Regions from separate parts of the Homo sapiens genome. Here region 1 is linked to region 2. The links come from fine-mapping of genetic effects on gene expression. A gene starts in region 2. The other region holds a variant in brackets. All regions are shown on one strand. Distances are between the middles of the regions.

Region 1 (5,340 bases), 23 kb after region 2:
CGTGCACTACCTCGCCCAGCTAATTTTTGTTTTTATTAGAGATGGGTTTTCACCATGTTGGTGAGGCTGGTCTCAAACCCCTGACCTCAAGTGATCCGCTTGCTTCGGCCTCCCAAAGTGCTGGGATTACAGATGTGAGCCACTGCGTCCAGCCTGTTTTTCTTTTCTTTCTTTTTTTTTTTTTTTGGAGACAGGATCACCCAGGCTGGAGTGCAATGGCTCAAACATGACTCACTGCAGCCTCAACTTCCTAGGCTCAAATTGATCCTCCTGCCTCAGCCTCCCGAGTAGCTGGGACCAACAGGCATGCACCACCACGGCTGGCTAATTTTTAATTTTTTTTTTTTTTTGAGACGGAGTCTTGCTCTGTCTCCCAGGCTGGAGTGCAAAGGCGTGATCTCAGCTCACTGCAACCTCTGCCTCCCGTATTCAACAATTCTCCTGCCTCAGCCTCCTGCGTAGCTGGGACTACAGGTGCACGCCACCATGCCTGGCTAATTTTTGTATTTTTAGTAGAGACGGGGCTTTGCCATGTTGGCCAGGCTTGTCATGAACTCCTGACCTGAAGTGATCCACCTGCCTTGGCCTCCTGAAGTGCTGGGATTACAGGCGTGAGCCACCATGCCTGGCCTAACTTTTAAAATTTTTTTAGAGATGGGGGTCTTGCTATGTTGCCCAGGCTGGTCTCAGACTTCTGGGCTCAAGTGATCCTCCTGCCTCAGCCTCCCAAAGTTCTGGGATTATAGGTGTGAGCCACTGTGCTTGGCCTAACAGCTCTTTTTAAAATATCTCTTTAGGGTATACACGGTGCTGTTGTGGTTTGGTATCTTGTTCCTTTGTATTGCGGGATATTTTTTTTCCTTTCTAACGTGGGTATTTGCGGCTGTAACCTCCCTTCTGGCTTCTGCTACACCCCATTCGTTTTGGTTGTCATGAGCCCTCTATTGGGGGTCTCCACTCTCTGGTTATAAACATACTGTGGAGAATGTCCTGTGGCGAGTCTTTGTGCATCTTCCATCATTTCTCTAATTCATCCCGAAGAGTCAAATGAGCGGGTCTCACGGCCGTCATGTTTTATAGCTTCTGCCCCAGGAGGCTGTCTGTGTACTTGTGTCCTGTGGAAGGTGTTCTGTTTTTTTCTACCCTTTTCTACACTTGGCATTTTAAACATGTATTTTTCAGTGTGGTCAGTGAGGATTTGTGCCTCGGTTTGGTCCCTCGGTGTGGGAGTTCTGGGTATGCCTTCTGGGCATTTGCTTTTGGGTCCTGGAGGCACTCTAGGTGGCGTGGGGTTGGGTGCAAGGGTGGAGGGAGACGGCACCTTACTGGGGGTCTGGGTGCCTGGCCTCTGTGACCAGTGTCCTCTGCCCCTGTGCAGCCGGCCCAGGCCTTTGTGGTGAAGCGGGGCGTCCACGTGTCAGGAGCGTCTCCCGAGAGCATCAGCAGCCTGCTCTCGGAAGTGGCCGAGTATGGGACCTGCTACACGCGCCTGAGTCATTTCTCTCTGCAGCCCGTCCTGGACTCTTTGTACAGCAAGGGCCTCGTGTTCCAGGTATGGCCTTTGCCTCATGGTTGTCACACACCTTTGTGAGAACGGTGCACACGACCTGGAAGAGAGAATCTCAGAGGTCCTTCTGCAGGACCAGAGAGTCTAAACCTTTTCTTTCCTTGCTAACATCTGAAACCCGATAGTGGCTCTTGAGGGATGGGTCAGTGAGGATGTTTTACCTCACTAGAAACTTGGGGCAGATGTGTGTGGGCCCTGGGCTGTGTGGGCCCTGGGGTGTGTAGGAGGCAGGTGCAGCCAGCATAAGGGGTGCGCAGGGCAGGAAAGGCGTGAGTGGGGCTCTTGCTGCCTGCTCCCCAGTGGGCCCGGCACATTGTGGATGACTGACAGCGCAGGGCCCTCCTGTTGGGTGAATTTACATTGCTGGGAGTTCTGAGCCAAGTCTGGCTCCGGAAGCTGCTGTTTGGTGAGTCTTGAAGCTGGCTCATGTGCTGGGAAGAGGCCCATGGGACAGGGGCTGCACCTTGAGTGGGAGAGAATAGGCAGGTGGATGATGGGGCATTTGGGTTTGGGGGATTGAGAGGAGGGTGTTGGGGAAGGTGGGCAGAGAGCCCTGGAGGAGCCAGGCAGCGCAGCCTCCTTTGACTGTTGCTGCTGCAGCAGGGGCTGTCGGGTGGGGTGATGTGGTGAGGTGTAGGTTTTAGATGGGCTGTGGAGGTGGGCATGGTGGGAGCTGCACGGGGCGGGGAGAGCTTCTAGGCAGAGGCTCAGCCCCGGGGGACTTGAGAGCTAGAGATGGTGGAGAAGGGGTCAGAGCAGGGGACGCTGAGAAGGGCTGGACTGTGGTTCTTGTTCATCTGGCAGGCATAGCCAGGCGGCTCCTGGGGTGGGTGGACTGAGATTGGTCCAGGGTGCCCCTGTCTTAGTGTGACCTGCAGGGCCTGCTGCTGTGGCGTTGCCCAGGATGCTGGTGCCACTGAGACAGCTGTGGTCGGAGCAGCTGCAGCCCTCACAGCACTAGTGTCTGTGCACAGAGCACGGCCGCCATTTCCCCCCCAGCCCCTTTGCCATGCCCCTGGGGCAGCTGGGCTCAGATGAGAGGAAGGGTTGGTGGTGGGCGCCCCTGGGGCAGCTGGGCTCAGATGAGAGGAAGGGTTGGTGGTGGGCGCCCCTGGGGCAGCTGGGCTCAGATGAGAGGAAGGGTTGGTGGTGGGCCACAGCTTCTGGCTTCTTGTGGATGGGCCGCATTTCCACCTGGCCCGGTGGCGGGGTGTGGCTCACAGAGGCCCATTGCTTGGAAATGGAGCCCAGAGCTGAGGCAAGAAACAAAGCGCTGTTCCCAGCACTGGTGCCCCTCAGGCCCTGGGCAC[G/A]GCTGCGTCCATGTGCCTGGCCGCCCTCCTCCCAGCCTCTTTGCCCACAGGCCTTCACCAGTGGCCTGAGGAGGTACCTGCAGTATTACCGGGCCTGCGTCCTTTCCACTCCGCCCACCCTGAGCCTCCTCACCATTGGTTTTCTCTTCAAGAAACTTGGCCGGCAGCTCAGGTGAGCCTCAGCATGGCGGCTGAGCAGGGGACTTTGCGGGAGCGGTGTGGGGCTTGCTGGGTGGTGGAGGGTTTGCCCTGCTCCCTGGCAAGGAGGGCCTGTGAGAACAGCCCTCAGCAGGCGACCGGATGGCCCTTGGCCGGCCGAGTTCACCAGGTGCCCGGTGCTGAGCGGGTGTGTCTGCCGTGGGCCCACCACAGCTGGCCCCATCCAGGCCCTCCAGGTCCGGTGGCTCCTGCCTAATTGGCACACAGGGTCCCTGGAGATGTGGCGTCCGGTACACACAAGCTGGTTAGTGAGCAACCAGGCTCGGGGGCTATTGGCAGGTGCCATCAGAGAAGGAAGAGTGAGGAGCTGGGCATTGGGAGCAGTGGGAGAGGCGACCTTCCAGGCTGAGGAGCAGAGTGTGGCAGCGCTGAGGAGACCCAAGGGCTGAGACACTGTGGGGCAGGGGAGCTGGGCTGTGAAGGGTGCGAGTTGTGGCAGATGCTTGGTACCACTGTGTGGATGGGAGGGGCTCTCAGGTGCAGCCCCCAGAAGTGGGAGGATCAGGGTGATTCGTGTGTTGGCCAGATCCTGGGAGGGAGGGCCTGCTGGGTGTGGGTACTTCAGTGGGGTGTGTGTGGACAGCGCAGGGGCACAGGGCTGCACACGAGTCCTGCAGGGAGCCCGTTTCTGGGTGGTTGGGGTGCCTGTGGTTTTTAAAGCCTGCATCTAAAGTTAGTTGCCCCAGGGAGCATAAAGATACGTGGAGACTTTGCTCACGATCTGATCCAGGCCTGGGAACCCTGAGCCCGGTCACCTGGTCTCATCCTGCCTCTGGGTCTAGGTACCTGGCCGAGCTCTGTGGCGTTGGCGCTGTGCTCCCGGGCACCTGTGGAGGAGGCCCCAGGGCCGCGTTTCCCACCGTGAGTTGTGCGTCCCTGCCGAGTGTGTCAGCCTGGTGGGCTCCAGGAAACGGGGGTGGCTGAGCGTGTCCCTGGAGGGCTGCTGCCGGCAGGGCTGCGCCTCACTCCCAGCGCTGGGTGCGCTGAGCTGCCCCCCACCCCCTTTGCGGTCTGCAGGGCGTGAAGCTGCTGTCCTACCTCTACCAGGAGGCTCTGCACAACTGCAGCAACGAGCACTACCCTGTACTGCTGTCCCTGCTGAAGACCAGCTGCGAGCCCTACACCCGGTGGGCAGTGGGCTGGGCAGGCGCGGCGGGCGCGCACTCCCACCAGGCAGACACTTGAGAGCGGTCCCTTGTCAGACACCTGCTGAATGTGGGGGTCACACAGGAAGGGGAGGGCAGGATAGGTGGACTGGGCAGGAGCCCCCAACCCCCCACCCTGCCCCCACTCCACACCCCCCACCCTGCCCCCACTCCATCCCGCCCCTCATGGATGGCCACACCCCACTCCACCTCTCACAGCTACGCCCCCACTTGCCCCTCACTGACAGCCACGCCCCTGTCCCACCCCTCACTGACAGCCACGCCCCACCCACCTCTCCGTTGACCACATCTACCCCTGCTTTTCCCCCACTGCAGGTTCATCCACGACTGGGTGTACAGCGGGGTGTTCAGAGACGCTTATGGCGAGTTCATGATTCAGGTGAACCACGAGTACCTCAGCTTCCGAGGTAGGTGGCAGCTGATTGCGGGGCAGGGGTCCGTGCCTGTGGGCCTGGGTTCAGGGCCATGGCCATGCCGGCCACCGTGGTGTTCACCCTACCTTAGATAAGTTGTACTGGACACATGGCTACGTGCTCATCTCCAAAGAGGTGGAGGACTGTGTTCCCGTGTTTCTGAAGCACATTGCCCACGACATATACGTCTGCGGAAAGACCATTAACCTGCTGAAGCTCTGCTGCCCCCGGGTGAGGAGGGGCTCATGTGTGGGGAAGAGAGGGGCCGGTCTTCCCTGGGGCTGAGTATGAGGCTGGGGCTGAGTGCTGGTGGCTGTGCTTGCATCCCCTTTGGCAGCATTACCTCTGTTGGTCCGACGTCCCTGTCCCCCGGATCTCGGTGATTTTCTCCCTTGAGGAGTTGAAGGAGATTGAGAAGGACTGTGCCGTCTACGTTGGGCGCATGGAGAGGGTGGCCCGCCACAGCTCTGTCAGCAAGGAGGAGAAGGTGCGTGGCACCACAGGTCTCGGGGGCTTTCTTCGCCCCTGCCTCTGCTTCCTGGGGTCTCAGGTTGGTGGGGCGGACATGAGGGCTGTGCAAGATGGGGGCCTCCCTTCTGGCATTTTCTGTCCTGGCGGTGGCCTGGGTGGGTGCCAAGGGGGAGTTGAGATGAAGGGTGGGTGTC
Region 2 (5,356 bases):
ATTTCTGCTCCAGGATGGCAGGCTGTGTCTTCTTCATGGCTGCATGACCAGCCTGGGGTGGGTGTGCCCGGGGAAAGTAGGTGTACACTGGGAGCCGTGCCATGTTTCAGGCCCTGTCCTGGCTCTGCCTCGGGTGCGGGACCTTGGTCCTCCACACTGGCTGGGTGGGGCTGGATGGGTTGAGATTCACATGTGCTCCTTACGACCACGGGTCCCTGGGTGCCCGCAGCAGGGCCTCCACCCTTCGCTGTGTGCATATTCGTGTGCTTATGAGTTTGGCTTTGTTTGATTAAAGGTTTCTGCTGCTAGAAAGATAACTTGAAAGCCATGGGCCATAGGATCCTCTCTGTAGTCCCCACCCACACAACTGTGGCTGAGGCCTCAGCTCTTAGGACAGACCGTGGTGGACATGTGGCCAAGCCCTGGCCACCTCCCCTTTCCCTGGAAAATCCAGATCTAGAGCAATGGCCTCTTCACACAAACCTTCTCTCAGTGGTTCAGACCACATTAGGATTAGAGAAGGGCCCCACGAGGCACCGCCAGGCGTGTCTGTGAGCGACTCCCAGGATGGAAGGCAAAGGCTGACCCCCCTCTCTGTTGTGCCCGCCCCCCCACCCCCGCCAGGTGTTACTTACAAAGAGGTGCTCAGCTTCAAGCCTCCCCGGCAGCTGGGGGCCAGGGTCTCCAAGGAGACGCCTCTGTGAAGATCTCTGGGCTCCGGGGTGGCAGTGAGGACCACCTTCACCTTCCACCTGAGAGGGGACTCTCGTTGCCACCTTGACCTTGGCTGGGGCTTGCATCCCAAGGCATCCATCAGAGCAGACGCCCGGGTTCCATGGACCCTCCTCCCCACGGCCATGCCTCTGCTCTTGGGCGCCCATCATGGAGGAGCACCTGAACTTTCTGGACAAGACCTCTGGCCGACCTGGGGATGGCCTCTGATCCCTGGAGCAGTGGCCCACTTGCCCGGTGCTCTCAGAAACCTCAGAGCTGGTGGGGCTCCAGATCAGGCCTTGGCCTCTGAGCCCTGCCTGCTCTGGGCCATGCAGAGGAAGGACAGAGGGTGGGCGCAGGGCACCAACTCAGGGACATCCCCTCTCCTGGGCGACGTCAGTGGACCTTCCTGCACCCCCAGCCTGGAATGTAAATCAGCTGTGTGGTGCCCGCGTGGCTGGAAGGAAATAGACCCTTTTGTAGCTCCCTGTTCTGGCTGTGCGTCCTCATGCCGGGTCCCACCTTAAGACCTCCGGGCCCTTGGCCTGCATGTAGAGGAGGCTGGCCTGATAGCTCAGACCCTTAGAGCCAGGAGGGGGGCCTGAGCATCCCATCTCTCCCAGGCCACAAAGCTGGTGCCCACTTCCCCCAGGCCTGTGCCAGTGATCTTCGAACCCCCACGTTAGGGCTTGGCCCCTCCCCTTTTACGGGGTGACCTGCTAATGGCTTAGACTCTAAGCCACTGTGTGTGGATCCTGAAGCCAGACCCAGGGGCAGGGCCTGATGGGGAGGAGTGTTAGGATCTACCCTAGCTCTCTGCATCCTCCAATGCCAGCAGGTCCCTGGGGGGAGGGGGCACGCTGGGCACGTTGAGACCCCTGTGGTGAAGTGGTGAGCGCCAGCCAGTCCCTGGGGGGACGGGGCACATTGGACATGTTGAGACCCCTCTGGCCCCTGTGGTGGATTGGTGAGCGCAGAGGGCTGGGTTTTATTCTTGATCAAACCTCTAGCCCCTACTACCCTGCTCCAGTGGTATCTTCGTGCCCAGGCCGCCCTCTGCAGGCCACTCGGTGTTTCCAAGGGTGGCGGCTGGAACACAGGCCATGGGCACCTCCAAACCTGTCCCAGGGCAGGGGTTACAGCAGAGAGACCAGTGAGGGGCAGGGCAGGGCAGGCCAGGTGTCCTCGGTGGACATGCCCACAGCTGGCCCAGCCAAAGTGGACCTGATGAGCTGCCACGACAGATGGGCCTTCTCTGCCCAGCGACCCTCATGCCTCTCCAGGGCATCCGGGCCTGGGGGACGTGATCGCCATCAGTTCCGGAGCCACGCTGACTTGTGGCATGGCTGCTGTCCACACTGGGCCCAAAGTGTGGGCCCATAGGTGGCCTGAGGACTGGGGGCCCCAAAATTCTGTGACCCAGCTGGATGTGAACTCCCGCGGGGGCAGGGTGTCCCCTGGGCTCCAGGGGGCCTCAGGTTTCCTCTCGGGCATCTTCCTCCGTGGCTGTGCCCGTGCCTCCTATCTTCCTCAGTCCCCCACCATGCTACCGCAACCCCGGTCCAGTGTCCCCACCTCCACCGACCTTGACTCTGCTCTTGGGCCAGGGGTCTTCTTGGAGCTAGAACCGGACTCACTCCCTCCTTAAACCTCGGGGGCGGTGCTGCGCCTCCATGCAGCCACGACCACCGCCCTGAGCCGGCCGCAGCGCCACCTGCCTCCCCGCGGGCTCCTCCCGCCTCGTGGCCTTTGCCCTGCAGACCCCTCGCCCCCCTCGCCTTTCACCCCAGGTCTTCCTGCGCCCGGGCCGGGTGGGCCTTGGGGCTGCGCTGGACCCTGACCCAGCTGGTGCAGAACGGGGCTCTCATGGGCAGGCTCGGCCACGGGCGTTCGGGTGGGGCTGCGGCGACCACTCGCCTAAGGCCGGGGGACCCCGCCCCTCTTGGAGGGGATCGGGGCGGGGCCAATGGGGAGGCGGAGCCGCAGCGCAGCTCCGAGGGCTGGCGGCTCGGGGCGCCGAGGCTTCCGCGCCCGCTGGTTCCTCGCTCCGGGGCGGAGCTCGCGATAGCGACCGGGAGCAGGGCGCGGGGCGGGACCCAGGTCCGAGGCGAGGAAGCCGGAAGCCAGGCGCGGGGAGCCTCCCCCTTCGACTGCAGCCTCGCTCCGTGCCTTCTGCGCGCCTGGGATCCCGGAGCCTGCCTAGGTTCTGTGCGCTCCCGCCCAGGCCGGTGCCCGCCGCCCGCCTGCGCCCCAGGCAGGTCCCAGGCCTCCGGCTGCTCCCGGCCGAAGGTGGGGACAGGCAGTGGCAGGCACCACTAGCGAGGGCGTTTGGGAACCCAGGGTGACCACGGCGCAGCCATGGGGACCGCGCTTGTGTACCATGAGGACATGACGGCCACCCGGCTGCTCTGGGACGAGTAAGTGGGACCTGGCCGAGGTGGGGTGCGGGGAGGGACCTCTGAACTGAGCTCCTCATCTGCCCCAGCCCCGAGTGCGAGATCGAGCGTCCTGAGCGCCTGACCGCAGCCCTGGATCGCCTGCGGCAGCGCGGCCTGGAACAGAGGTGTCTGCGGTTGTCAGCCCGCGAGGCCTCGGAAGAGGAGCTGGGCCTGGTGCACAGGTCAGGACGGGGGCAGGCCCCACGATGGGGGGCGGGGCGGGCAGCCCAGCTAGAAACCTAAGAACCTGGGCCTACCCCGAGCCTGCCAGCCTCGAATACAGAGCCTCTCCCTATGCACCTCGGGTGGGCTCACAGGCTTGAGGAAGTGACAGGGTGGCCACTCCCACCATGAATCCCAGGTCCCCGCCTCCCGCCCCCCTGCTCCTGCTGGTGACCCTGCCTCTCCTGCCTGCCCATCTGCATGCAGCCCAGAGTATGTATCCCTGGTCAGGGAGACCCAGGTCCTAGGCAAGGAGGAGCTGCAGGCGCTGTCCGGACAGTTCGACGCCATCTACTTCCACCCGGTGCGTGTCCCCGGACACACTCACCTGTGCAGACACACATGCACGTGCCTTTGAGCGTTCACAGCCACGGCCGCCAACCCCAGCCAGTGTCCCCTGGTCCATACACATGACATTGCCCTGCACACCTGCCTGCTGGCACTGCCAGAGCCTGGGGCTGGCCTGTTCTGCTCAGCAGCTGGTGTCTTGCAGCCTGGCACAAGTGTGGGTATGGCCTGCAAAGGGCAGCAGGGAAGGCAGGGGGCTCATCTGCGCCCCTGCGCCCACAGAGTACCTTTCACTGCGCGCGGCTGGCCGCAGGGGCTGGACTGCAGCTGGTGGACGCTGTGCTCACTGGAGCTGTGCAAAATGGGCTTGCCCTGGTGAGGTGAGAGCTGCCCCTTCCCCTGGCTGCTCCTCCGTGGGTGGCCCTGTGAGGGGCCAGGGCGACCCTGACGTGACCCAAATCCTACTCTCACGCCGTAGGCCTCCCGGGCACCATGGCCAGAGGGCGGCTGCCAACGGGTTCTGTGTGTTCAACAACGTGGCCATAGCAGCTGCACATGCCAAGCAGAAACACGGGCTACACAGGTGTGTGCCAGGCTGGCTGCAGGGGGGTGGGCCCAGGCCACACAGCAAGGGGCAGCGCAGGAGGCGAGAGAACCCAGCCAGCACCTTCCCATCCCTGGCCGGGCTCCTGGAGGTGGGAGGCCCTGCCCCTTTGCCACCAGCGCTGTCTGTACCCAGGATCCTCGTCGTGGACTGGGATGTGCACCATGGCCAGGGGATCCAGTATCTCTTTGAGGATGACCCCAGGTGAGCAGGGGTGCGGAAACCACCCTTCCCTGCAGCCCCAGTTTTTGGGTGCACAGCCTGGCCTGGGAAAATCCAGGGGTGAGATACAGACATGTGCTCAGGGGTCAGCGTTCTACAGGGAGCTGTAGAGCTGTTGAGGGTCCTGACCTTTGACCTCTGGCCCTGGCTGGCTGTTGGCAGCGTCCTTTACTTCTCCTGGCACCGCTATGAGCATGGGCGCTTCTGGCCTTTCCTGCGAGAGTCAGATGCAGACGCAGTGGGGCGGGGACAGGGCCTCGGCTTCACTGTCAACCTGCCCTGGAACCAGGTGCCCACCCTCAAGCCCCAGGTCCCCACCCAGCCCCCTCCCCCTGGGCCCCTCCCCTCCCCCACAGTTCACCCTCAAGCCCCAGGTCCCCACCCACCCCCTCCCCCGGGCCCCTCCCCTGCCCCACAGTTCAGGATGTAGCCTGGGATGTCCTGCCAGGTTGGGATGGGAAACGCTGACTACGTGGCTGCCTTCCTGCACCTGCTGCTCCCACTGGCCTTTGAGGTGACTGCACGGAGGGCTCCCCCAGGGCAGCCGGGTGGGAGGGGGACCTTGTGCCTGGAGTGCGCCAGTGAAGGCAGGAGGAGGGTTATGAGCTGTCCCACTCCTGTGTGGCTGGGGAAGGTGCTCAGGAGGGGATGGGATGGGCCTGGCTCGCCCTCACCTGGGCTCCAGCCCCTCTCTGTCGACCCTCCCCACTCCGGCCTGGCCTGTAGTTTGACCCTGAGCTGGTGCTGGTCTCGGCAGGATTTGACTCAGCCATCGGGGACCCTGAGGTGAGGGCCTTGCCTTGCCAGGGAGGGCTTCTGGGGTCCTGGGGCCCAGGTCCCCCATCACACATGGCTCTGGTTCCAGGGG

Direction of the effects. Positions count from the first base shown, and alleles are read on the strand shown. Sizes are in standard deviations (SD) of each study's normalised expression.
As copies of G replace A in region 1, the expression in liver of the gene that starts at base 2,840 in region 2 goes down (small effect, 0.38 SD a copy in GTEx).

The links. PIP is the estimated chance that this variant, and not a neighbour inherited with it, causes the effect. A credible set is the group of variants that fine-mapping cannot tell apart.
Region 1: its variant is the best candidate, but not a certain one, in a credible set for the expression of HDAC10 in liver (GTEx, PIP 0.78).

Annotation. Positions count from the first base shown.
Region 1 is chr22:50,225,616-50,230,955 of GRCh38, reverse strand. TUBGCP6 (tubulin gamma complex component 6) reads left to right here. Exons shown (of 25, transcript NM_020461.4): 4 at 1,379-1,552; 5 at 2,928-3,049; 6 at 3,879-3,957; 7 at 4,114-4,223; 8 at 4,578-4,669; 9 at 4,767-4,906; 10 at 5,013-5,162. Among named protein-coding and RNA genes, the nearest start is that of TUBGCP6, 17 kb to the left of the region's middle. The variant G/A (reference allele first, on the strand shown) is at 2,878.
Region 2 is chr22:50,248,749-50,254,104 of GRCh38, reverse strand. It overlaps HDAC10 (histone deacetylase 10), which reads left to right and starts at 2,840. Exons shown (of 20, transcript NM_032019.6): 1 at 2,840-3,131; 2 at 3,200-3,334; 3 at 3,582-3,678; 4 at 3,945-4,042; 5 at 4,141-4,245; 6 at 4,402-4,470; 7 at 4,651-4,777; 8 at 4,937-5,002; 9 at 5,215-5,274; 10 at 5,354-5,356. The coding sequence starts at 3,073. MAPK12 (mitogen-activated protein kinase 12) reads left to right here. Exons shown (of 12, transcript NM_002969.6): 12 at 625-1,204. The coding sequence ends at 704. RefSeq lists enhancers at 1,825-1,994, 3,649-4,495 and a silencer at 2,485-3,144.